Linked DNA regions of Homo sapiens. The protein of the gene in region 2 purifies or fractionates together with the protein of the main gene of each other region. This does not show direct contact. Each region holds a gene or a part of one and is shown on either strand. Other genes may lie near its edges. The genes, in order: TTC4, CHORDC1 and EDRF1.

Region 1 (7,000 bases), on a different chromosome or scaffold from region 2:
ACCCTGGTGTACACCACAATCAGGATAAAGTTTACGCTCCTTAGCAGGGCATTCAGGCCTTCGTGTATGGCCCTAACTTAGCTTTCTAGCCTCATTTCCTACCACATCCAACCACTCTCTTTACACTAATACATTGGGCTCTTTTAGCTTAAGTGCAAAAGCATCTGCTTTTCTCTGCTTTGCTTTGCTCAAAGCTTAAGGAAAAGTAGTCCAAGAGTCAATTTGCAAATCTGCTGAGGGCTTTCCCTTATAGTCCAGGAACACCTCACAGCTTCTCTGAGACAACTGCCAAATCCAACTTGCTGCCACTGCTAATGACAAAGATGCCCTCCTATAGCAGGACTGCCCTGTGCAGTTTACAACAGCACTTCAACTCCTATCCTGTCATTGGCTCTCAAATACTTGAGAAATGTGTAGGCATGTATTACTCCCATTCCAGAGATGAGGCGGCAGTCCCAGAGAGGCAGCGTGTGCTTGGAGTCACACAGCCAGTAAATGATGATGGGTCTGACTTCAAGAGCCAATGCTTTCTTCATATGACAGTATCAGGAGCCGGGTCACTGGCATGCACTTGATATTCCAGCTACCTGGGAGGGTGAGGCAGGAGGACTGCTTGAACCCAGTTCAAGACCAGCCTGGAGAAGATACCCTGTCTCTATTATAAAAATAATTTAAAAAAAAATTTTAGGGGCTGGGTGTGGTGGCTCACATCTGTAATCTCAGCACTTTCGGAGGCTGAGGTGGGTGGATTGCTTGAGCCCAGGAGTTCAAGACCAGCCTGGCCAACATGGTAAAACCCCATCTCTATTTAAAAAAAAAAAAATTCAAAATAAGAAAAAGCAAACAAAAGAAAGAGCATCAGGAGACATAGGTATAGGTACGATTAGGAAAAGGAAGGCTGGCCGGGTGCAGTGGCTCGCCTGTAATCCCAGCACTTTGGAAGACCGAGGTGAGTGGATCACCTGAGGTCAGGAGTTTGAGACCAGCCTGGACAACATGGTGAAACCCCGTCTCTACTAAAAATACAAAAATTAGCCAGGCATGGTGGCAGGCGCCTGTAATCCCAGCTACTCAGGAAGCTGAGGCAGGAGAATCACTTCAACCTGGGGGGTGAGGTAGAGGTTGCAGTGAGCCAAGATCGCACCACTGCACTCCAGCCTGGGTGACAGAGCGAGATGTCGTCTCAAAAAAAAAAAAAAGGCCATCCTAGCAGCCTTCATGTACAAAAAGCCAGGCAGCTTTTCCCTTCAAAGACCAGTCCTATTTATCTCCCCTGGTCTGGAGTGTTATGGCTGTGGTGCAGTGGGCTATCATCACACTGGAGCCTGTTTGACCAATGGCTGAGTTTTATGGGCCCGGCCAGTCTCCATGGCTGCTGTCTCACACAGCTCTGTGCTCAGGGCAGAAGGGAGGGGAGTATGAGGCAATCAGTCAGCAGCGGAATGAGAACCTGGCTCTACTCCTCGGATGGTGCCTGAGTGATATGGTTTGGCTCTGTATCCCCAACCAAATCTCATCTTGTAGCTCCCATGATTCCCATGTGTTGTGGGAGGGACCCGGTGGGAGATGACTGAATCATGGGGGTATGTCTTGCCTGTGCTGTTCTCGTGATAGCGACTAAGTCTCACGAGATCTGATGCTTTGAAAAATGGGAGTTTTTGACCGGGAGTGGTGGCTCATGCCTGTAATCCCAGCACTTTGGGAGGCCAAGGCAGGTGGATTACCTGAGGTCAGGAGTTCAAGACCAGCCTGGCCAACATGGTGAAACCCCGTCTCTACTAAAAATACAAAAGTTAGCCGGGCGTGGTGGCAGGTGCCTATAATCCCAACTACTCAGGAGGCTGAGGCAGGAGAATTGCTTGAACCTGGGAGGTGGAGGTTGCAGTGAGCCGAGATCACACCATTGCACTCCAGCCTGGGCGACAAGAGCAAAACTCCATCTCAAAAAAAAAGGGAGTTTTCCTGCACAAGCTCTCTCTTTTTGCCTTCCGCCATCCACGTAAGAGGTGACTTGCTCCTCCTTGCCTTCTGCCATGATTGTGAGGCATCCCCAGCCACGTGGAACTGTGAGTTCTCCACTAAACCTCTTTTCTTTATAAACTGACCAGTCTCAGGTATGTCTTTATCAGCAGTGTGAAAATGGACTAATACACTGAGCATCTTCCCCAATCTACTCAGCGCCATGAGATGACTCACCTCTGGTGCTGTAGAACCTGTAGCAAGGTGCTCTTGGCAGGCACCCGGTATAGTTCTGCCCTGTCCTCATCCTCAAAGTAGACCTGCAAGATTAACAGAAGGGCAAGAGTCAGAGATAAAGGCTTCGGCAGCCTTAGTTGAGGCTAAGCCCAGGGAAAATTAAAAAGATGGCAACGGTTAGTAGTTGAATGCCTCCTTTATATGGTTGTGTAGCTGGGTGCTTTGCATTTAGTACCCCCCCGCCATGCCACTGTAAAAGAGGCTATTATCAGTTCCATCTTCCAAAGACAGAATCAAGGCTCAGAGAAGAACAACAACTTGCCAACATTACCCTGCTGGTAAACAGAAGAATCAAGACTCAAGGCCAGGCCTATGTAGCCCTCCTTTCCCTAACAAATCAGACTAAAGCCATCAGGTATGTGGAGGAGAAAGCTATGGTGGCTCAGAGAAGGAAAGAGCCTGAAGAAGGAGAGAAGGATGTCTGTGCAGGGTGTCAAAGCCCAAGCAGGGTGAGGAAGACGCCTGCACAGGAAGCTCCCGGGGGTGTCAGAGCAGGACCAGTGAAGAAGAGCATCCATGCTGGGGGCCAGCAGGCCTGAGCAGGGGAAGAAGTGCTCCCTTGTAAGATGGCTGTCCAAGGTGGGGTGTCAGAGGCCATGTGGGGTGAAAAGGGTATCCATGCATGGGGACAAGTAATATGGAGTTTACAGGCCCAACTAGGGTGAGGAGGGTGACCACTCATGGCAGGGGGTGGCCTGCTGTAGGGTGTCAGAGCCCAAGCAGGATGAGGAGGATGTCCATGTAGGGTCGTTGAGCAGTGTGGGATGTCAGAGTCTGTGCGGGGTGAGAAAGACGCCCACGCTGGGGCAGCAGCGTAACATGTGGAGTCAAGAGTCCAAGTAGGGTGAGGAAGGCTCCACATAGGAGAGGGGCCAGTGGTGATGACAGGAGGGGAACTGATCAAACAAATAACTATATTAAGAATAATAAAGTCAGGCCAGGCATGGTGGCTTATGCCTGTAATCTGAACACTTGGGAGGCTGAGGCAGGTGGATCACTTGAGTCCAGGAATTCAAGACCAGCCTGGGCAACATGGTGAAACCTCATCTCTACTAAAAATACAAAAATTAGTTGGGCACGGTGGCAAACGCCTGTGGTCCCAGCTACTTGGGAGACTGAGGTGGGAGGATTGTTTGAGCCCAGGAGGTTGATCTTGGCAGTGAGCCAAGATCTCCCTACCGCACTCCAGCCTGGGCAACACAGCTAGACTCTGTCTCAAAAAAACAAAAACAAAAAAAGAACAAGAAGAAAGTCATTGTTACAAATATAGAAAGGGAGAAAAAATCCTGTGGATGTTGAATTAAGAGTTGGAGATACCAATGAGACTTCATGGTCTCTCTCTCTCTCTCTCCTCTCTCCTCTCTTCTCTCTCCTCTCCTCTTCTCTCTCTCTCTCTCTCTCTCTCTCTCTCTCTCTCTCTCTCTCTCTCCTTTCTTTCTTTCTCTCTCTTTCTCCCCCAAGCTGTGGCACTGAGAAGGCATTGAGGCAGTAAGCTTGCCTCTCTACCCCCATTGTATTAATCGATACACTTATACACTTATTGCACAGAGATCTCGGCTTCTAAATACCATTCTTCACTAGAAAGAACCAGGGCTTCTTGGGAAAAAATAGCTAATTCCAGAGCTGGGGCAAGGAAAGCGCAATCTGAACCTAGAACATCCTATGTAAGAAAGCAACCACTTAAAAAATAGACACAAGTCAAAAGGACACAGAAACAAATTTGAAGAGATTCCCACTGGCCAAATCTGGGATATTCTGAGCATAAAAGAAACAATCATAGTAACAGATTAAAACTCATTAAATGAAACAGGAAACTATAAATCCACCAATATAAATAAATATGTTGAATATCTGACGAGCAATGGGATATTTACACCATTTCAAAGCATCTCCCTATAAAACACTTATTAATCATAAAGAAAAAGTAACTGTACAGTGGAGAAGGCTGGCAGACCCCACCTCAATCAGGTGATCAGAGTGAACATCATGAGTAATGGGACAAATGGAGATTATGTACCATCTGATAGGTGCAATGAGAATACAGCATCACTTCTGTAATATTCCAGCCAAATATGCATAATCCAGGCCGGGCATGGTGGCTCACACCTGTAATCCTAGCACTCTGGGAGGCCAAATCGGGCAGATCATTTGAGGTCAGGAGTTTGAGACCAGCCTGGCCAACACGGCAAAACCCCATCTCTATTAAAAATACAAAAAATTAGCTGGGCGTGGTATCTGAGTAGCTGTAATCCCAGCTACTCAGGAGGCTGAGGCAGGAGAATCGCTTGGACCTTGGAGGCAGAGGCTGCAGTGAGCCGAGATCACACCATTGCACTTCAGCCTGGGCAACAAGAGCAAAACTCCATCTCAAAACAAACAAACAAGTATGTATAATCCAAATCTAGTCAGAAGGAAACATGAGACAAACCCATACTGACAGACATTCTACAAAATAAGTGGTCTGTAATCTTCAAAGTGTCCTGCAGTTGAGTCACAGGATCACAAAAATATGAATAAAAATTTTTTAAGTAAAAAAAAAAAGTGGAGGAAAGACTGAGGAGCTCTTCCATACTGAAGGAGACTAAGGGGACATGATCACTAAATACAGTATGTGATTCTGAACAAAACCCTTTTGCTATAAAGAATTTGTGAAACCTGAATGGAGTCTGAGGGTTAGATGGTAACAGTGAATTAATGTAAATTTCCTGCTTTGATAGCTATATGGGTATTATAAAGAAAAATGTCCTTTTGTGTAGGAAATACACAGTAAAGTATTCAGGGGTAATGGGACATCAGCTGGCATCCTACTCTCAAATGTTAGAAAAAGGTAATTCTTTATACTGGATATTGTGATTTTTTATTTAAAAAATCCCAACAATGGAATGTTATTCAGCCTTAAAAAGGAAAGAAATTCTGGCTGGGCACGGTAGCTCACACCTGTAATCCCAGCACTTCTGGAGGCCAAGGAGGGCGGATCACTTGAGGCCAGGAGTTCAAGACCAGCCTGGCCAACATAGCAAAACCCCATCTCTACTAAAAATACAAACAAAATTAGCCAGGCTTGGTGGCACATGCCTGTAATCCCAGCTACCTGGGAACCGGAGGCATGAAAATCACTTGAACCAAGAGGCAAGGTTGCAACGATCTGAGATTGCACCACAGCACTCCAGCCTAGGTGACAGAGCGAGATTCTGTCTCAAAAAATAAAAATAAATAAAAAGGAAAACAATTCTGGTTGGGCATGGTGGCTCACACCTATAATCCCAGCACTTTGAAAGGCGGAGGTGAGTGGATCACTTGAGGTCAGGAGTTCGAGACCAGCCTGGCCAACATGGTGAAACCCCATCTCTACTAAAAATACAAAACTTAGCTGGGTGTGGTGGCACGCGTCTATAATCCCAGCTACTCAGGAGGCTGAGGCAGGAGAATCGCTTGAACCTGGGAGGCAGAGGTTGCAGTGAGCCAAGATCGCACCACTGCACTCCAGCCTGGGTGAAACAGCGAGACTCCGTCTCAAAAATTTAAAAAAAAAAGGAAATTCTGACACATGATACAATATGTAATGAACCTTGAAGACATTATGCTAAGTGAAATAAGCCAGACATAAAAGGACAAATACTGTATGATTCCACTTATATGAAGTACTTAGAGTTTCAATTTGGGAAGATGAAAAAGTTTTGGAGATGGCTGGTGGTGATAGTTGCACAACAATGTGAATGTACTTAATGCCACTGACCTATATACCTAAAAATGGTTAAAATGGTAAATATTATGTCATGTATATTTTACTATAATTTTCAAAAAAATAAAGCAGACTGCTTCCCCCGCCGCAAAAAAAAAAAAAAAAAAAAAAAAAATTAATTCCATAGAGGAACGAAATAAAACTTCTCTTACCTCCAAATTATCAGGGCAATATTTTTGCTCTAGGTCCCAAGAGGGTGTTTCACCAAACATCACCATTAGATGATCAATAAACCTAAGGATAAAACATGTACTTTCTGGGTATCAATAACTCATGATCTATTTTCCCACATCGGTCCCCAGACACTAATTCAAAGTTATCTAGAATGTATAAAACATGAAATGCAGGCTTAACCCATTTGACAGCAGTACCCCAAATGTGTATATGTATCACTTGTCCTATTATGACATAATTTTATTTTATTTTATTTTATTTTTTTTTTTTGAGACAGGGTCTCGCTCTGTCACCCTGGCTAGAGTACAGTGGCATGATAACAGCTCACTGTAGCCTCGACTTCCGGGCTTAAGCAATTCCTCTACCTTAGCCTCCTGCATAGCTGAGACTACAGGCACATGCCACCATGCCTGGCTAATTTTTTTCTTTTTTTTGTAGAGATGGGGGTCTCCCTATATTGCCCAGGCTGGTCTCAAACTCCTGGGCTCAAATTATCCTCCTGCCTCAGCCTCCCAAAGTTATTGGGATTACAGGTGTGAGCCCTGCACCTGACTGACAGGATTTTCTTTTTTTCTTTTCTTTTCTTTTTTTTTTTGAGACAAAGTCTTGCTCTGTCACCAAGGCTGGAGTGTGGAGTACAGTGGAACAATCTCTGCTCACTGCAACCTTCACCTTCTGGGTTCAAGTGATTCTCGTGCCCCAGGCTCCCAGACAGCTGGGACTACAGGCATGCACCACCATGCCCGGCTAATTTTTTATATTTTTATTAGGCACGGGATTTTGCCATGTTTGCCAGGCTGGTCTTGAACTCCTGGCCTCTAGTGATCC
Region 2 (10,547 bases):
AGTAAACTACTATTCTCTCTTTTGGATAACTGCTTAACTGTACCAGAAAATAATTAACAATAAAACAAAATAAAATCTTACCTTTCTTATTTTCTTCATTCCCTGATGACAGTTTAAGTTTATCAAGTGCTTGTTTTAGGGAGGCAGATATTTTTAATTCCAAATTTGTCATTGGTTCATCTGGGCTGGAGAATTTTGAAACCTTATTACCATTATTAATATACCAAAATATTTCTTTGTACTCCAAATTAATAACCTTAAAAGCTTTCTGAGAAGCCAAATGCTTTGTGTATCAAATGATTCCCATTAAAAGGTTAAAAGGTATTTTATAAATAATTGTTACAATGTATCTACATTCTGTCTTAACAGAAAAGCTCCTTATATTAGAATAGTAAGTCTCAAATAATCACGCTATTGTCAGCATATTTAAGTATTAATCAGTTGCACTAACGAGAAAGGAATAAAGACTAGGAATCCAAGGTTTTCAAGATGAGTAATGCTGAGGAAGGGACCATAATGTACTTTTACATCCCATGCCCAAGCTCAATGCTGAGCACATAATAAACATGAAATATAAGTAAGTTCTAAGTGAATCCATACTCACTTCTACCAGTGGAGATAATTTATGTGGACACTGGCATATGGATCTGTAAATTCAGATACGATCGTATTGCAAGGCAATTTCAGTAGGGTTTAAAAAACAACATCTTCTAACATTTCATAATGGCTAAGTGTTGTATACATAATTTAAGTCCACTCAATAAATAAGTATTAAACATATTAATAAACACAGCAATAAAAATAAAAATCGTAGGCTATTCATTCTATATCCTCGATGAAAAAACTGACAAAAGAGGCATTTTAAAAGTACATAGGCAAGGCATGGTCGCTTATGCCCATAATCCCAACACTTTGGGAGGCTGAGGCAAGAGGACTGCTTGAAGCCTGGGCAACAAAGTGGAACCCTGTCTCCGCAAAATAATAAAAAATATTAGTCGGTCACTGATATGGTTTCCCTGTGTCACCAACCAAATCTCATCTTGAATTCTAGCTCCCCTAATCTCCACATGGTGTGTGACAGACCTAGTGGGAGGTAACTGGATCATGGGGATGCCTTTTTCCCATGCTGTTCTCATGATAGTGAATAAGTCTCAGAAGTTCTGATGGTTTTTTTCTTGCCTGCCACCATGTAAAACATTCCTTTATTACTCGCTCTACCTTCTGCCATGATTGTGAGGCCTCCCCAGCCATATGGAACTGTGAGTTCATTAAACCTCTTTTTCTTTATAAATCACTTAGTCTCGGGTGTTTCTTCGTAACTGTGAAAATGGACTAATACAGTCATAGTAGCATACACCTATAGTTCCGGGGAGGGTTAGGGAGGAGGATGGCTTGAGCCCAGGAGTTAAAGGCTGCAGTGAGCTATAATGCCACTGCATTACAGCCTGGGTAAGAGAGGGACTTTTCTTCTTAAAAAAAAGAAAAGTATGTAAAAACTGATATCCTCATAATTGTTATAATACCACCAAATGAATTTAGGATAAAATATTTAGTTTTTCTCATCTCACTGCCTTTGTCCTTTTTTTTCAAAAAGTCAATCTCAAGATCCTCCTGCCTCAGCCTGAGTAGCTGCAACTACATGAGCACACCACCAAACCCAGCTAATTTATTTTTTTTGGAGAGACAGGATCTCTTTCAGATTGGTTCTCAAACTCCTAGGCTCAAAGGATCCTCCCTCCTAGGCTTCTCAAAGTGCTGGATTATGGGCTTGAGCCACAGTGCCTGGCCTCTCACTGCCCTTTAAGTAAAATAACAGCCCATCATTTAAAGAAAAAATTAACTCATACTATTATAGTACAGACTGTATTATATTACTAAAGAGATTAAGAATGAGCCATGACTGAAGTTTTGTCTTTTCCCAATTATTTTTCTAACTGCTAAACTGGCCAAAGCATTCAATGGTCTCCTCTAACTATGAAGATGGAGAGAGAATAAAATCATCCTGAGTAGTTTCCTTAGCAATAATCTGTACTCAGAGTGCTAATGAACAAATAAACATCTAAAGTCTCTTAGGGTTCTTATCTTGGTTCTATATTATTCAATACTCTATAAATTTATTTAAGTAGGATCAAAGGAGAATAAAGGGAAAATCATGAGTTCATAGCATGAATAAAAATTACAATAAGTGCCTACTTGCAGCCAAAAAAAAAAAAAAAAATCACCTTTTTTTAAGTCCTGTAGTTTGCTTCTAAAACAATTTAGTACTCAAGTGTAGCACGAAGAAGACCTGGTTCAACAAAGGTACTCAATATACATGTGTGGGAATACAGAGTCTGGTTATCAGAAGGCAAGTATGAAGAATCTGTACAACTCTATTGCACAATGAGCAAACGCTTTTTTAAGACTACTTTCACAAATATGTCATCTAAATCAAATGCATTAAAAATTGACCAGTAGTAATGAGATTAACGGTAGTTTTCAGGCATCTGAAAGTAAAGATGGATGATTAGGCCTCTGCATTATTTTCTACTTCAAACTCATGCCATGAAAAGGAAAACTGCTTCAAAGAATTTTACCATGCCACAGTGAAAAAGATGCACTCTAAGGCACAAGAAAAATGTGACTTCCCTACCCTGATGATACATGTCCCTGTAATTATGACAGTACAATATGCAAATCTGTTATGTAGTTATATTGTGTACATGCTCTCAAGTTGAAGAGAAATAAAAATTTAAGGCAGATTTAAGGGAGAAACCAAATGGTTCAAAGCTTGGTGGCCTACATAGTAGCTACAAATGGTATCATGCTAAATCATAAAGGAAAGTACCATGCACAAGTGCTACTATTCAAGTGTGACAAAAATATGTAACTGTATAAAGTATACCTTGGTCTTTTTATTGCTTCTACTGGCTTAGGGGCTTGAATGATGTGTTCCTGAAATTTGGGTTTTAATTCACATAGCTCCTTCTTCTCAGTAGTCTTGACTTCAGGTTTGACTGGCTCAGGTGGCTTCTCACTATTATGTCTACCTTTTGTACAGCCCTGTTAGTGAAAGATAATTCATTAAGAGCTATCTATTTTACATTTCATGATAGAAATATTATCTTTTCAGTTCTTTATTGATAGTGATTCTATTTCATGTTTTCTCCAGTTTCAATACATTGATTTTAAGAAATTAAAAACAGAACTCCAAATTTGCCATATTTGCTGAATCTCTGAATGACGGCTTTTTTAAAAAGTCTTTGAATTACACTTCATAAACATCTACTTATTCTATTAAAAATATGGCATAAACCTCTTGTTTACAGAAGAATTCTGGAGAATCTCACAAAGAACTGTAAAAAATAGTTATACAGAAAAATCTGTTACTCGAAAGGCCTCAATTTGAGACCTAGTTCTCAACATACTTATTAGTTATATGACCTTAAGCAAGATAATCTTTTTAAACCTCCATCTCCTCATTTGTAAAATGGAGGTAATGTCAGGTAAGATATTTTCTGAGAGAGTTAAATAATAAAATGCCTGGCACATTTGGCAGGTGATAACATTCAACAAACGTTAGCTACTTTTCTACTACATTCTACTGAATTATACATACTCTTTAACACCTCTGAAATGATACAATCAATAGCATTATCAGTTTGTTAGTAGCTTTAGTTTTCTTAGTGGTATATAAAGTGGTTTTATATAAAAGTGGTATGTAAAATATTTCAACAGCATCTTAGATAAAACTTTATCGTTCCTAACTGAAAAGGCTTTAAATTGTTGCTTACCACTTTCTCCTTGATGTTCTTTCAACATAACAGAAAGAACAAACCTAAAATGATAAGCAGGTAACTGATACCTTAAAACGTTAATTTCCAAAACAGATTCTTTATTTTACAAGCTGTGGAAGGGAGATGAGCTGCTTTTTGAAAGGTGTTATCTGCAAGTTGATGAAGACCAATCAATCTATATCAGAAATCAGACTCCTCAAATCTGAAGCTTTCTATAACATGTATTTTTAGGAAGATAATCTAGAAAAAATAATTAGTACTTACTACAATGCTTAAGAAATCAGAAAAATCAGTTGTTCTTCTCTTACAGCAAGACCAACCCTATGAAAAACAAGAGAAGGAAACTAAAAACTCTATTTGCATGAGAAACACGACCCACTAAAACACTCTACTTGCACTTATCTACTTGAATCCTGCAGTAACTTGCGTATAGAGTGCAAAATTTCAGTGTTGCATATAATTCACCTAATCAAGTAAAATGAATATTAATCTTTGATTTTTAAAAAGCCAATTAACCAATGTTAAAGTGATTTGTGCTATGCCCTATCATCAAGGGAAGCACCTTTATAAAACAAAAACTGTTTCTCTTTTCAACAATCGTGTCTGCTTTTTTTTTAGAAGAAAAACATGTTATAATTCCTAAAACTATCATATTTAAAGAATATTCAAAATAAGTATAGGTATTTTACTTTTAAAATCTATTAAGTTAAAGATAGTAACTATCTTTAGTTAATTTTAATTTCACAATAAGCATTCTATTTTCAGAACAACAAAGATTAATTAACACAGCAGCTAAAGCACTATTAAGCCTTTGAAGGTGATCTTTTCAGTGAGAAGCATAAAGACAGAGAAACTATTAGTATTTGTGATTTTTGAACAAACTATCAAGTAGTTTACCAAAAAATGGCTTTAATAATTATCTCTAAATTCCAATGTTTATAGAGCATAGGGAAACAAAAATGCAAAATCTCAAAACTTGGAACTTCAGATTAAGATTTGGGACTAAATTCAGATTAAGATGCAACTTTGCACACATCCGCCTGGACCTCGCTGATTTTCAAAAGACTGCATAAAAATATGGTAGTGATTTTTCTCATTATATGCACCTGTAGGTTCTTTTTCTTTAAAGGTAATTTCAAATATCCTATAATTCAAATTTTCCTTTAATTTGAAATTTAATTATCTTTTACTCCGAATTGAGATGTAGATCAATTACTACAACCTTAAATATAGGGTTTAAATAGCATCAATAATATAGTCAACAGAAAAGTTATTCTATAAGAGAAAAAGTTTTACTGTCTTAATCATGTACTAAATTATGTCAGATACTGTGATACACACATGTAAAATACAATACAGGCCAGCTGTTCCCAAATGCCAATCTGGATTCTATGCTAGTCTTCAGTACAATGAGAAAAGGAAAGATAAATTTAAGTTATGTGAATATAAGGTTGCTAGTTGTCTTTTTTCAGCAAGATTGTCCTTTTCTCTGAATATGCCCCTTCTAATATTAAAATAGTATTTCTTTTGTCAATGCAATGTTTAACTTCTTACTTGGTCAACTAGTATCCCTGTATTGATGTATACGCATTTTGTCTGAAATCTTCTGGACTGTGAAATCCAATAATCTTGGAAAGTCTAGGACTTTAAGAAATGGTTATAAAATAGAGACCACAATAAACACTACAACTGCAAAAGAGAGAGAAGCAAAAATACTTCAAAGTGAATTCATTAAGACTTGGAGTGATTAACAATGCGGTAAGAGAAAAAACGGGCAATGGACCAAATGATCAGAAAGTCAGTAGTATCATTACTAGGAGCAGTAAAGTTGAGAGGCAGACTACTTTTGGAATAAACGGTACACACTAGAAACTGGTTTGATGTTGCCAATGAGACACATAAATAGAAATATGTTGTAAGAGCCATCGGCGTAGAGGTGACATTTGAGAAAACCAATGAATGAACTGAATGAGAGAAAACAGCCAAAGGTTACCTTTAAGAGCTAAGAGGAAAACAGCATAGGGAAAAAAAGAAAAAGACACAGTAAAACAAAAATATCAGAAGAAATGGCAGTCTAGGAAAAATAAAATTCCACAAAAAGAAAAATAAACATTTCCACAGCACCACAGTTTCCACCACAACAAAGATTTGTAAAAACTAAAAAAATGTATGGAGGAATAAGGTCTCAACTTGCCCTACTGAATGTCTTCTCTGTTTTCCTCACTCAGAACTAACCAGACTAATACATCTTTTGTTAGATTTGGTGGTGTTAACAGTGAAGTGCCAAAACAGTCTAACTACTCTTTGGAAGGTATAATTAGACATTTAAAGGGCACCAACAATATTTAAACATGTTAAGACTGCTTATGTTCCTGAGAACCAAAGAAGTAGAACCTAAAACCATGGCAGCCCTACCACAGCATCATCTTTTGAGATATACAAAGGAAACTCTTTAAATGTATCATACTATCATGAATTTTAAAAAGATGACCAGCAAAAACCTAGTCAAACAACATTCCACCAATTCTCCAGAACATCCAAGAAGTATAGCTGGAAAACTCACAGGTCTGTCCCGAGATTGGCACTAAATGTTTATAAGAATCTTTTCTAAAATTCAGAGCTGTTATTAGCCAGTAGTGACAGACTGAGATTCAATACAACCACTCTATTTTCCCTCAAAATTAGAAAAGTGAAGAAATGGGTGTAGAAAATGAAAATTAAGACCAGGCATGGTAATCCCAGCACTTTGGGAGGCTGAGGCAGGTGGATCATCTGAGGTCAGGAGTTCGAGACCAGCCTGACCAATATGATGAAACCCTGTCTCCACTAAAAATACAAAAATTAGCTGGGCATGGTGGCAGGTGCCTGTAATCCCGGCTCCTCAGGAGGCTGAGGCAGAATCGCTTGAACCCAGGAGGCGGACGTTGCAGTGAGCTGAGATCGCACCACTGCACTCCACCTGGGCAACACAGTGAAACTCCATCTCAAAAAAAAAAAAAAAAACCCAGAATTAAAATACAATTTTATAACTGGAAAAGACCTTAAGATCATCATCTACTGTCTTTTCTTTGTCTTTAGTGGAGTATACGCTTAAAGCACCTCCCCCGCAAAGGTCATTAAGAAGAAAGTCACTAGCTGAGAAAAAAAGATGAGAAAATAAAGATTTAGTATTACATCTCTCAATTTACTACACAGATATGAAAAAAATGAAAATATAGTTCCTACCTTTAATGCATCGTGAAAGACCGGAACACCTGGGTGGTATGTGCAAGCATCTGGAGAAAACAGAGAAAAAAAAAAAAGTACCACTCTTTATAATGAAGAAAAATATATACATGATCATCTCCTTAAGGTGTTAACCTTTAATCCTTTTTCCAAACGCAAGTACCTTAAAAAGGTACAAATGATTGAGTTTGACGTGCAGCACAAAGTGTACTATATTAAAATAGTATTAAAAATTCTAATTCAAGCATATGATGACTAAGGACAAAAATACAGAATTGTTTATGTATAACAATTATATTTTATATTCCCCTAATCTTGGTAGTAAAATTTGTTTAGTACCAAAACTTCAAACCCCCAAATTTTGACCATCATTTTTCAAACCTGCTTTTACAAATGTACTATCAAACTTGAAGTATTCTTATGTGCATTCATCCATAAAGGTTTCACAAGAGATTCCCTTAAAGACATTTTGTAATAACAGGCTCAACATTTTAAATACTGTAAAGATTTTTTGCAGTATCTAATTGGTAATTTAACTTTCCTAGACACAGTCATTCCTAGGTACAAACCTCACTAAAAAGAAGACTAGGGTGCCTCTGCCTGGCCCCTGCCCTGTTTGGGAAGTGAGGAGCTCCTCTGCCCTGCCCCCGCCCAGTCTGGGAACTGAGGAGTGCCTCTGCCTGGCGGCAGCCCTGTCTGGAAAGTGAGGAGCACCTCTGCCTGGCCACTGTGCAACCTTCCAAGTGTGAAGTGACAGCCTTGTGTGTGATCTTTCTGCCTTCCCCAAGTGTGCATTTTCAACATTAAAGTTTACTTTTTAATTAAAAAAAAAAAAAAAAATAGAAGTCTAGGTGGGCCTGGTGGCTCATGCCTGTAATCCCAGCACTTTGGGAGGCTGAGGTAGGCAGATCACCTGAGGTCAGGAGTACGAGACCAGCCTAACCAACATGGTGAAACCCCGTGTCTACTAAAAATACAAAAATTAGCCGGGCGTGGTAGTGCATGCCTGTAGTCTCAGCTACTCAGGATCTTGACAGGAGAATCGCTTGAACTTGGGAAGCAGAGTTTGCAGTGAGTCAAGATCATGCCACCGCACTACAGCCTAGGTGACAGAGCAAGACTCCATCTTAAAAAAAACAAACAAAAAAAACTCTCAAGTTCTACAGCCTATTTTCTAGATTCTCACTGGGTGTTATTCTATACTTCCCTCCCCACTACACCATCAATCTTTACTTCTCTTATGTAAATGGGTTTATTACAATTTGTGTTGGGAACAGGCCCCCAAATCTGGCCATAAACTGGCCCCAAAACTGGCCATCAACAAAATCTCTGCAGCACTGTGACATGCTCGTGACGGCTTTGATGCCCAGGCTAGAAGGTTGTGAGTCTACCTGAATGAGGGCAAGGAACAACTGTCCCACCCAGGGCGGAAAAACACTTAAGGCATTCTTAAACCACAAACAATAGCATGAGCCATATGTGCCTTAAGGACATGTTCATGCTGCAGATAACTAGCCAGAGCCCATCCCTTTATTTCCCGTAAGGAATACTTTTAGTAAATCTCCATTGGAGGCTCTCAGCTCTAAGGCTGTGAGACCCCTGATTTCCCACTCCTTACTATATATTTCTGTGTGTGTGTCTTTAATTCCTCTAGCACCACCGGGTTAGGGTCTCCACGACCAAGCTGCTCTCAGCAATTTGCAAGATGGAGTACTATATTTTTAAAAATCAGGTAACAGTCAGCTTCATCCCTCTGCAATCTGCTTAAAAGACTATCTTTCAACCTTTCAAGTCTATTTAGCTTTCAATGCTCTACAACAACCTTGTCCAACATGCCGCCCCAGACAACTCTGAATGTAGCCCAACACAAATTTCGTAAACTGTCTTAAAACATTATGAATTTTGTTTTTGTTTTCTTTTAAGCTCATCAGCTATCATTAGTGTTAGTGTATTTCATATGTGACCCAATTATTCTTCTTCCAATGTGGCCCAGATAATTCCTCTTCTTCCAATGTCGCACAGGGAAGCCAAAAGATTGAACACCCTTGCTCTATCACCTGATTCCTGGTGTTGCCTCAAAATTTACTACTGGTGCTCACAGAAATCTCCCTACCCCGTTACTAGCCAGTATTGCTTCCTTAGTAACCATGTGCTGCATAGATACTAGCTAATGTAGAAAGTGTTAGGTATCTTCCTGATACAGTAAGTAAATCCGTGGGATCAGAAAGATGTTATTAATTAAGGGTAGTTGTGGAATTAAGGGCTGAAAAAGGAGGTTGGAAGTAGAAATGGGTATGCAGAAGGACATGAAGTTGAGAGGGGAATGGAAGTAGAGAATAGATCCAGTATTTTCAAACACCAAATTTAAAGTAGTCAGAAACATAAACGCAATGTATAACAGAGTCAGAGGCATAAAATGTCACAATAAGTCAATTTTGGCAGCATGGCAGCAGGAATGAGTCAGATCTGAACCATACAACTAACATGAACACAATTAGAAAGCCACTGCTTTCAAAAACAAGAAGTAACAAGCAAATGGACATTCTTCATTCTTTCTTTAATATCCATCCTTTCTTTATCAGTTTTAAGAGTTTTGGCAAAATTAATATTTTATGGGTGAGAAGCTACAAGACAGTAGCAGTGGTTAAGTGTCCAGGGCTTCTAACATTGGGTCTGACCCTGGCTAAATTTCTCACTGAGCTACTCGCTAGTAGTTCCTTCAGTTTTCCTCGTATACGTCGATTAAAAAAAATACCGTTTGTGAAGCTGTGTTTATTCTAGAATAAGTGTTTAACATATGTAAGTTACCAACTGTGTCTCCCTTAAACACCCTTTAACTTCAGTTACAAGTTAAAACGTTCTATCAGCTTAAAAGGGAGTCTAATTTCTGTCTCTAGGGGGAAAAAAAAATCATGAGACTATAAGTCAACGAGCACGGTAATTATGCCACAGCACCGAGAAAAAAAGCATTTAGTGTAGATTAAGAAATATTTAAAGATGACAGATCCAACATCTGGCTTACGCAAAATGGAACTTGCTTGTGTATTTACCTCTTTTAACTTATTTCTGTCAACTGTACAAGGTCAAACCTCTTCCTAAAAAACCTCCTAACCAACCTTTCTATTTAGTTCTTGTCTCCTACTCCGTATCTCCATTTTCTTCTCCTTCCATTCACTCAATCAGTTTACTTGAAAAATGTATTCTAAGTCTCTAAAAAAACCGTCATTTCGCTAAAGTAAATATACTTATTGGAATTTCTCTGCTGTAACTAGTACTGCTGACCACCCAAGTTTTGAGACGGTTTTCCTGGTCGCTTTCTGTTTCCTAGGCACTGCACCAATTCACACATGGATACAGACTTCCAACAAATGACTATCGCCCCTGAACTTTATTGTCTCATAAGCAAAGCGTCAGTCTTTCCCCTGTATTCTATATTAAAGTAGAATATCTGCAGACATAAGTGCAATTAATGTTTTACATAGGCTGCCAACACCAAAGGGCTTTAAAATCGTTTCTCGATTTTGTCATCGACTGAAATCTCACAAT
Region 3 (10,547 bases), on a different chromosome or scaffold from region 2:
TGGACTTTTCCCTTTTTAATGTAATGGTTTTTTTTTTCTAGAACCATAGATTATATGATAAATATTAGTTACCTATTATAGAGAAACTTGAATTAATTTATAGTTTGTAAAGAAAAATTCTGGTTTCTCACTTGGCATAGGGTGGTATTAAATTTTTGTTAATATTTTAGTTATGACACTCTGTACTCAAAAGCTTTTGTTTGTCTCCAGTGAAATTCAGTTGACACCTTTTAAGAGGGAGGGCTCAGGGTGGAGTAATTTCGGGAAATAGGAAATGCATCAGCCTATAAAGATTTTGCAGAGCATACCCAGAGTATCAGTAGCTTTGAACTGGGAACATTTCTGTGTGTGTTACAGTCTATATGGTGGAAACAGCCTGTGTGCAGACCTCCTCCTAAAATTCGTTAGTATGGTAGTAAAATTCATGTATTTTTTGATGACAGTAATTTACACATATTTCTCTCTTTTTCATAAGATTATTGCTTCCGCCAATTACATGCTTTCAGAACTTTTTCAATTGGATGAACCTAAAAAGGAAGAAAATTCAGAATCTCCTTTAAATGAGAATTCTGATGAAAGTTATAGTGAAGAGGAGGAAGAGATGCCCGACAGTGATGAAAATGGATCCTATAGCACCAGCTCTGATCCATCAGATGATAGCAAAGCAGTAGCTATAATCAAGTCTGTTGGAGAACTATCAGTACCAGAAAAATACAAATCTATTCATCAAATCAGAGTAAGCCTTTAGAATTTATATTAAATTTTTATCAAGGAAACATAATTGTTAATCGAATATAGTTAGCCTTTCAAAAGATACCATTACTTCAATAAACCTTTCATGGTCTAGCATCTAGTAATCATTAGTTTTCTGAATTCTTAAAGTTGGTTTTATAATTGTTCGAGGGTAACTGACCCACATTATGCAAGCCTATAGTGGACAGGTGTGTAAACCAGGTGTCTGTCTATTCTTATGTGAAGGATTTTCCTTTCCAGTGACCAGTGTGTAGTCATAGTCATGTCTCATTACTAGGGCACTTCTATCCGGTGTTGGGGTTGCTGGGAAATGACATATATAGATTGCTTGGTGAACATAGAGTAGAGAAGGGGGTGGCTCTTGGAACTGTATATGGTGAGCTCTGGTACATTATCCCTGTGCTATATAGGACAGTACTTTTTTCGTGACTCTTGTGGTCATGTCTGTTGTATTGGACATGTCTCTGCCCTGGAGAGGGCCAGACAGATTTCTCCCTGTGTGGATTGCACTGACTCTACCATCAGTGTATCTCCAGGCAGTATATACCTTTCAACATACCGTCTCCCTATGATTAGATCCAGGCCAGCCTTAAGAGTTCTGGCTGTTCCCTGAACTGAAATACAGTCGTATTTACAGATAATCTCTTAATTTAAGCACTGAGTGTAACTTTCAGATGGAAACTCTAAGCAAGTTTTTGAGGGGCTATGTCTGTCACCTTAAAACATTGACCATCTTTCTGACCTTCACTTGCTCCATTGGTTTGCCGTGGCCATGCTGGGTTTTTTTTCTCTCAAAAGCATCAAGATTATGCTCATTGGAGGGTCTTTGTATTTGCTGTTGCTTCTGCTTGGAATGTACCTACCCTAGGTCTGTTCATGGCTGCCTTTTTTAAGGCTTAAGTCTTGACTGAAATGTTGCCTCTTCAGGGAGATGTTCCCTGACCACTCTGGCCAAAGCATGCTCTACTTTTTTGTCCTTCAAGGAGCCTATCTGTTCCTGAAGTTCTTAATGTTTGTCTTGCTTCACTAGAACGTAAGCTCCCTGCAGGTACAGACCCTCTATCTCCCATGTCTAGAACACATTATGGGTGCTCAGTAAATATTTGACTAAATGACTGCAGGAAAAAGTCATTAACTGTCCATCTAAATTTTAGTTCACTTTCAGCTTGAACTTCCACAGTGGAGTGAAAAAATGTTCTGGTTATAATCATTGATTGCAAAAGTTACATGTATCTGGAAAACTGCATTGTAACACTAGGCCATGGACTTACGGGGCAATTAGGTAATAATTAAAGATGTAATGAGTTAGTGTCACTATTTTTCACAGATAGCACTTTCTGTTCCGTATCTGAAGCACTCAAAAAATGCAGTCTTAGTATTCATATAAACATGTCTTTAGTTAGCCTTTCCTTATCCTCATTGAATGACTTTGTGGTATGGACAGTCAGCATGAGCTCCAGGGTCCCAGCTCCCCACTCACTCACCGTGTCCTCAGACAAATTGCTAAACTGTCTGTGCATGCTTCTCTTCTGTGCAATGAGAACAGTAATTCCAACCCCACGGGATTCAGCGAAATGAAATGCTTCACAGAAGCCCCTACACATAATATCCTTCATAGTTGGAGGTTGCTAGCTGCTTTTGCTCCTTAATTAAGCAAATAAATTAAACAACGAGAATATTGGTGATACTTGTTATTTCTAAATTGACGCTAATTGTTAATTGTGTTTTGTCCAGTATCGGTGCTAATTATGAGTGGAGCTGACCTATTAGATGATGTCTATATTTGTCTAAAACATTACTACTCTAGTTCTTGCTTTTTTGTCATAATAGAATTGTATTTAAAATTGTAAGTACTTAAAGCAACATATATGTTGTAGGATCTTTTTAAGCAAGATTTTTGTTGATAATGCTTACAGTAATTTAATCTTCAACAAAAACAATATGTTGACCTTAATACATTGGTAGTGTATTAATAATTTTATGTTTGTTCCTCAAGCCCAGTTGTGCATTTCCAGTTTGCCATGACACAGAAGAGCGCTGTAGACTTGTGCTTAGCTATGTTCTAGAGGTAAGTTTAAGTTTAGTCTTCACTTTTTTCGTAAAGTTTGTACTTGATTATGCAAATTACACTTGTTTGTTGGTATCTAAATGTTATTCTGAATTGTGTTCTGCTGCGATTTTTTTTTCCTTAAGCATAAAGTGAAAATCAGATTTGTTTTTCCCAAATCTTTCAGATCAAACATAGTTTTTGAAAGTCTGTTTGTGAGATGGAAATTTTCCTAAACGTATTCAGTAGTCCAGATACTGTCTTATATTTAGTTTTCAGTTGACCTGAAGTTAGATAGATAGTGAATGCTTTTCCTTTTTTTGCAGGGTTTAAAATCTGTCGATAGCAGCATCAAAAAAGAAAGCGACCTTCCAGCAGCTGACCCCAGCACTCCAATCCCGTTAAAATATGAAGATGAATCCTCAAGAGGGGGTCCCGAGGGGCTAGAGAAGCAGATGGCCTTGTTTTTGGACAAAAGTAAGTTGAATTGATGTGCAAATAAGGCCTTCAATAGAATAATACACTGGTTCTTTATCAACAGCAGACTTATGTCAATTAAGGCATTAATTGAAAGGCATTGAGAAAAAGATATCCTGTGAACTGGAATTAGGGGTAGTATTCTTTCATTTGAAATATAAAAAGGATAATTTTGATGTTTCATGGACATTTCTAATAAGAGCATAAGGAGCCTGCATCTTCCTGTTACCCACAGTGGGGAACTAATGCTTCAGCCTGGTGGAGTTCTCGCTGGATCGTGTAGGAGCCACAGACTTAGCCAGACTGCCTAACTTCATATCTTGGCTTTGCGAGGGCAAGTTGCTCCACTTCTTTGAGTCACTTTTTATCTCTTTCAAAATGGAGACGATAATAATGGTTTCTTTAAAGGGTTGTTAAATGATTAAATGATTAATATATGTAAAGTGCTCAGAACAGTGTACATAATAAGCACTATAGAAGTGTAGGCTGTTGTTACTGCACAGTACTTGAATAAGCTACAAATGTCACTTTTAAATTATCTAGTTCTTCAGGAATATAACATCATGAAGAATATATGGACTTCGAAGCAGAAGTTGTGAATTTCTTATTTTAACCTAAGTTGTATTTCTTTTTCCAACCTTATTTCTTTCCCCCTTTTAAATCAGTTTCAATTGTTTAAAAAAAAAAAAAGTGTAGAAAGCCTGTATGTTTGAAGTACATCTGAATCATAGTGGAAGCGCTTTCTGGACCCTTCTTCTTTTCCTGAACAAACATGGTGGAGGTAGGAGAGGAATAGATTTATTTCCCCAGCATTTATATAGTGCTGCTGGTATGCCAGGCTTCGGCCTACAGGCAGTAAGGAGATCACACCAGGACTTTTGCCATTCTTTTTTTCTGAAATGCCTTTTCTGTCTCCTTCTCCATCTCCCCTGTTGAAAATCCTGCTCAAGCTCAGAATCTCCATGTTTCCCTCTGTTCTCCATCAGAATTACTTGATTCTCTTACCACTTTGTCCTGTGAGCCTGCCTTATGTCAGAGTTCCAGCATTAAATGGTTTTACACACACATGCACACACACGGTTGTGAACAAGAACTTCATCTTAATTTTAGTTTCTCACAATGCCTCTTACTCACAGATGATGCTTATATCAGCAGAGGAAAAAAATCCATACACACATTAAACCATAATGAAGACTAAGTACCTTTCATTGCCTTGAAAGACTTGTGTTCTAGCTGATTAAAAAATGAGAAACCTTCAGGCTGGGGGAAGGGGTGGGTGTTTTTGTTATTTGCAGAGCAAAATTTTCCACAGTATTTTGTTCTTTGTCTGTTAATTACACTTAACATATTTTGTTGTGGTTTATGTTATCAAGGATAGAGGCCATATAACTTCATGTCACAGTTTCCAGTGCCTGGCACAGTACTTGGCAGAAAAATGATCATTTGTTGAGTAAAGAAGGTAGCGATGGGCTGGACTTTAAATAAAGAGTATTCCTTGTAGAGGAAACAGTAAACTAAGATGGGAGATAGGAAAAACAGGCATGTTTATAGGTGACAAGCAGTAACTTAACATTGGCTGATGGGTAGTAGGATGGACAAGTAGGAAGTGAGACTGAGAAACATGCAACTAGCTAAGTGGGGAGAAGCCGTTTTCATGTTTGAGGACAGGCTTTCACGCTGATCTAAGCTGTGCTTTAGGAAGGTAAACTTTGACAGGTTGACACATAGACTGGAAAAAGGAGACAGGTGTCACTCATGAGGTTAGCTATGTCAGTGACACTGGAAGAGAATGACAGAGTTGCCGATGTCAGGGAAGCAGAAGGCCTTAGAACTCCCAAGTGAGAGTCTTTTAACACGGCCATTTCACTCCAGTGTATTTAAGCAGTAAAGCATAGTATTTACCAGTCTTGTCACCTAAGTCTAGAGTGTTTCCATCAAGAAACAGAAAATATTTTTTGTGCATGAGACTTACAGTCAAATGAAATGTGCTGTCTTTTTTTTTCTCTCCATGTCACAGTGGGCTCCCTTCAGAAGGGCAATTATTCCAGTCAATCTGGAATGATCCCTGGCTCTTGGCAACATAAAATGAAACTTCAGCTGATTCTCAAGTCATCAAAGGCCTATTATGTTTTGTCCGATGCTGCCATGAGTCTTCAGAAATACGGAAGAGCATTACGATACATTAAATTAGCTTTGCAAAGCCATGGTAAGCCACTATAAATGAATATGTTTAATAGGCACTGGGAAGAGAGAACAGAGAAGGCATCTGAATCACAGTGGAAGTTTACTCCTATTTTTCTAGTAAATCTTTATTTTAAAATGACTGTTTCCAATCCTGTGTGTGTTACCTTCTATTTTAGTTTCTGCTCAGTGGTTTAACATCTCTTTGCTTTGAACTACATGAAGCCGTAATATGTATTGTTGGACCTAAAATAAACAGAATAGATACAGTGCTACAAAGCGTTCAGCTGGTAACACAGTTTCTTCATATTTCCTATGATCATTAATTTTTTTCTGCATTTGTGTTTTTTCTTCTTCCCTCCCTTTCTAAACAGATACTTATTGCTGCCTCTGCACCAATATGCTTTCCGAAGTGCTGTTGTTTCTCTCTCAATATTTGACACTTTGTGGTGATATCCAACTAATGCTGGCCCAGAATGCAAATAATAGAGCAGCACACCTTGAAGAGTTTCATTACCAAACAAAAGAAGACCAGGAGATCCTGCATAGCCTTCACAGAGAGTCCAGTTGCCAAGGTGTGCCACAGGCTTGGACCACGTGGTTCACAGTGGGACTGTGCAGTCTAGCTCATGCTTATTTGAGTATTCAGAAAAGGGGTAGAAATATTAGAGTTTTGATATTTGCTCTGTATTTATTTATTTATTTTTTGAGACGGAGTTTCGCTCTTGTTGCCCAAGCTGGAGTGCAATGGTGCAATCTTGGCTCACTGAAACCTCCGCCTCCCGGGTTCAAGCAATTCTCCTGCCTCAGCCTCCCAAGTAGCTGGAATTACAGGCATGCGCCACCATGCCCGGCTAGCCCACCTTGGCCTCCCAAGGTGCTGGGATTACAGGTGTGAGCCACCACGCCTGGCCTGCTGTTTTATTCATTTCCTAATTTTAAGATTAAGCATGATCTTGTGTATTTGTATAAAATGGTTTTTAAGTATTTTATAATTACTGTTTATATAACTAGAACTAAATATAAAGTAAGATATGAAGACAGTTGTGTCAACTTTTTATTTTATTTTATTTATTTATTTTTTTGAGACACAGTCTCGCTCTGCCACACAGGCTGGAGTGCAGTGGGGCAGTCTTGGCTCACTGCAACCTCCACCTCCTGGGTTCAAGTGATCCTCCCATCTCAGTCTCCCAAGTAGCTGGGACTAGTACATGCGCCACCACACCTAGCTAATTTTTGTATTTTTGTTAGAGACAGGGTTTCACCACGTTGCCCCAGACTGGTCTCAAACTCCTCAACTCAAGCGATCCTCCCACCTTGGCCTCCCAAAGTGCTGGGATTACAGGCACGAGCCACTGCACCCAGCCTTGTGTCAGCTTTTTACACTCTTCTTTTCATGAGGTTCTTCTAGGTAACACTTGTAGTCAGCTAACAAAGCCATAGGTTTCCTTTTGAAAGGTATAACAGTTGGTGAAGGAGGTTAATTAACCTTCTGAATGATTCCTTGGGGCTGAAATAAAGTGATCATTGTTTTTAAAGTTAGTTCATAGCCACCTGTCTTGCTTAATATGTCACTCTGTTTGGAATTGTCAGGCTTTAAAACTGGGAAGTAGAATAATCTGATCCGCAGCAGCGATATCCCTCCCTCTTACCTCAGCACAGTGTGTAACCACGCTGCCATTAACACAGTGAATGAAGTAAAAGATGAGTCTTCTGAAGGTGCTTCTGTAATGTCTCATGGGGTTGTTTTATTATGCTCTTAAATTGTTATACTGAATATTACTTGATGTTTGCCTCCCAGAGTTTTAGACAATTCATAGCTAGAGGAGTATACTGGGGGAGAGGGAAAAATGTGTTATTTTGTAATAGTTTTGCCCTTTCTTCCCCTCTCTCCGTCTTTCTCAAATAATCATGTTTTAATGTAGTAGGAAAGTCCTTGGTGTATTTTTACTACTCCCATCATAGCAATTTCAGTTAAATATTCTTTTTACTCTAGTCCCCACTAGATGGCATTTTTAATCTTCGAGGGCTTCTGTAGCAGCCTCTTCAGTGACTTAAAGTTAATATTGGGACATTATTTCAAGAACTATTTCCATTAGTTAAAAATAGCAACTTTACTTTGTATTAGTGGACAACTTTAGGTCCATTCTAATAAACAAGTGTACCTGGGAAAACCTGGGTCACAGAAATTGTTTGATATTCATAGGCAGGAAAATATTTTTATCCAACATTAATATCCCAAGAAATATAATTTTATAAATAAATAGATCTTTATTATGAAACTTAAATATTGTTGTATTGATTGAATCTTGGTATACTTACACTATATTGCATTTTTTATTACTTAGAATTTAGAATCTCAGGTTCATTTGGATACTGAGGAAGAAGGAATCACATGATTCGCATTGATGTATCCCTTTTTTCTTTTCAGGATTTGCATGGGCAACTGATTTGTCTACAGACTTAGAAAGTCAACTCTCTGTTAGTTGTAAATGTTATGAGGCTGCTAATGAAATCTTGCAGTTTAGTGACTTGAAAAGCCAAAATCCAGAACACTATGTACAAGTATTAAAGAGAATGGGTAACATTAGAAATGAAATTGGTGTGTTTTACATGAATCAGGCTGCTGCATTACAGAGTGAGAGACTAGGTGAGTATCTCTTTAGATTCCTCTCTATTGCTTGTTCTCTCAGAAAATTATGCTAATTTTGTATGAGTCAAGCAAAGAACTGTGGCACTTGATTTTATATCATAAAGAGGTGCTCTATTAGAGAACCTCTTATTATTCTTAAGAAATAGAATTAGGAACACATGATTTTCCCTTGGAATGAATTATTTCAATGTTCTTCATTCTTACTTTTGTACTCACTCCATCTGATCAATTCAGAAGCAAATGGGACATCCAGCCATGTGCCAGGCTCTATGTTGGATATGTAACTGGCTAAAATATGGTTCTCTCTTCATGTTGGGAAGCTAGATAGGAACACAAAGCCTCAAAATGCTGTGGATGAGTACCGACGAAGTATAATGGGAGACTGGGGAAATAAGACATTTATGGAGGTTATAAGTTAGAAGGCTTTTGGGAAAGTGTTGTTGAGCAGGGTGATGCAGGATGTGTAGAGCATCAGCCGGCAAATGTGAGGAAAGGAGGGCACTCCAGACCAAGGAGGCGGTGTGAGGAAGAAGCCAGGGATCTCAAAGGGTGCAAGTGTACGTTTAGAGGGAGCAAGAGGCCTGTGTGAGGAAGATGTGGGATAGTGGGTAAGTAAGATGTGGGATGGCGTAGTAAGATGTGGGATGGTGTAAGTAAGATGTGAGATGGTAAACCATTTGGGCCCATGTTGAATTTGAGTTCACTATGGAACATGTATGTGAAAGGTATAATTTGTAGTCAATTTGAAGTGTGCTAAGAGCTGTAGGGCTAGTGAGACAGACTGAGAACCATTCACATAAAGGTAATAGTTGAAGCCGTGAGAATAGATAAGAATGTAAAGCCTGGACACAGGGACAGAACAGAAAGGGGCTGAGGTAGAACTGAGGTGAGCAGGTAAGCTGAACATCTGTGGGCCTTTGGTTTTGGTTTTGGTTGTTTCTTTTTTTTTTTTTTTTTGAGACAGGGTTTTACTCTGTCGCGCAGGCTAGAATGCAGTGGCATAATCATAGCTTGCCACAGCCTCGAACTCCTGGGCTCAAGCAATCCTCTCACCTCGGCCTCCCAAGTAATTTTTAAAAATTTTTTTAGAGATGAAGTCTTGCTGGGTTGCCCAGGCTGGTCTCGGACTCCTGGCCTCAGGCAGTCCTCACGCTTTGGCTTCCCAAAGTTCTGGGATTACAGGCATGAGCCACTGCACCCAGCCTGTGTGCCTGTTGATCTGTGAATAATGCTTGGCACTTAGGGATACAAATGTTGCCCTCAAAGAGTTCATTGCTAGTGGGAGAACCTGTGCATTTACGGTGCATCTGGAGGGGGCAGTCAGTGAGGGAGCCTGGAAAGTGGTAGTCAGGAAGCTAGGGAAATTGGATACAACACAGGTTGTAATCTCTTCAGACTCCATGGGGACCACGCTTTTGGATCTTCACAAAATGGCACTTTGCTCAGATGTTTTTCTTTGCTTATTTTAATATCATTTGGTTAATAGTGAAGAGGGTTATACTTAAGTGTTGTACAGTAGACCCCACTTATCCTTGGAGGATGCGTTCCAAGATCCCCAGTGGATGCCTGAAACTGGAGAGTTTTTCAGTGCTTTTTCCTATACATACATACCTGCGATGAAGTTTAATTTACAAATTAGGCACAGTAAGAGATTAACAGCATTTACAACAGTATGGCAGCATCGTTACTCTTGTGCTTTGGGACATTAAGTCAAAATAAGGGTTACTTGTACAAAAGCACAGCAATATTGTAACAGTCATCTGATAACCCAGACAGCTACTAAGTGACTAATGGGTGGGCCGTGCATACAGCATGAATGTGCTGGACAAAGGGATGGTTCCCATCCTGGGTGAGGCAGAGCAGGATGGTGAGAGACTTCATCAAGCTATGTTAGTGAGCTGGGGCTGCTGTAATGAAATATCATAGACTAGGTGACATAATGAGAAATTTATTGTGTCATAGATCTGGAGACTGGAAGTTCAAGATCAAGGTGGCAGCAGCATTGGATTCCTCTCATGTTTCTACCTTGGCTTGCAGATAACCGCCTTGTCACCGTGTCCACACAGGGCCTTCTCTCTGTGCATAGCCCTGGAGTCCCTCCCTCTTTAAAAGGACACCAGTCATACTGGATTAGGATCCCACCCTTACAATCTCATTTAATCTTAATTACGTCTTTAAAGGACCTGTCCTAAATACAGTCACATTCTAAGGAACTAGGGGTTAGGGCTTCAACATATGAACTCATATGGACACGTTTACCTTCATGTAACAGGCATGGTGAGAGCAATGAGCCGTGGTTGACTGCAGGTGACTGGCTCGCCACCACACTCCTGTCACTGCCATCCTCCTCTTATCTCATCAAGAGACAGTGCTAAGGTTTACACTGATGTCTGCTTACACAGTTGTTTTCTTTCTTTCTCTGTAAAGTGAGCAAAT

The links.
Region 1: the proteins of CHORDC1 (region 2) and TTC4 purify together in Homo sapiens (affinity purification with mass spectrometry; 2 studies listed by BioGRID and IntAct, with this or other methods). This does not show direct contact.
Region 3: the proteins of CHORDC1 (region 2) and EDRF1 purify together in Homo sapiens (affinity purification with mass spectrometry; 3 studies listed by BioGRID and IntAct, with this or other methods). This does not show direct contact.

What each region holds. Positions count from the first base shown.
Region 1 is NC_000001.11:54,732,861-54,739,860, reverse strand, and holds part of TTC4 (tetratricopeptide repeat protein 4), read right to left. Parts: intron 6,233-7,000; coding exon 6,151-6,232; intron 2,280-6,150; coding exon 2,197-2,279; intron 1-2,196.
Region 2 is NC_000011.10:90,211,134-90,221,680, forward strand, and holds part of CHORDC1 (cysteine and histidine-rich domain-containing protein 1), read right to left. Parts: intron 7,052-10,547; coding exon 7,002-7,051; intron 4,098-7,001; coding exon 4,041-4,097; intron 3,043-4,040; coding exon 2,885-3,042; intron 2,288-2,884; exon of another isoform or gene 2,223-2,287; intron 186-2,222; coding exon 82-185; intron 1-81. UniProt on the Homo sapiens protein: Regulates centrosome duplication, probably by inhibiting the kinase activity of ROCK2. Proposed to act as co-chaperone for HSP90. May play a role in the regulation of NOD1 via a HSP90 chaperone complex. In vitro, has intrinsic chaperone activity.
Region 3 is NC_000010.11:125,735,169-125,745,715, forward strand, and holds part of EDRF1 (erythroid differentiation-related factor 1), read left to right. Parts: intron 1-475; coding exon 476-736; intron 737-2,749; coding exon 2,750-2,821; intron 2,822-3,126; coding exon 3,127-3,277; intron 3,278-5,294; coding exon 5,295-5,483; intron 5,484-5,832; coding exon 5,833-6,033; intron 6,034-7,051; coding exon of another isoform or gene 7,052-7,071; exon of another isoform or gene 7,072-7,746; intron 7,747-7,889; coding exon 7,890-8,108; intron 8,109-9,558; exon of another isoform or gene 9,559-9,683; intron 9,684-10,370; exon of another isoform or gene 10,371-10,530; intron 10,531-10,538; coding exon 10,539-10,547. UniProt on the Homo sapiens protein: Transcription factor involved in erythroid differentiation. Involved in transcriptional activation of the globin gene.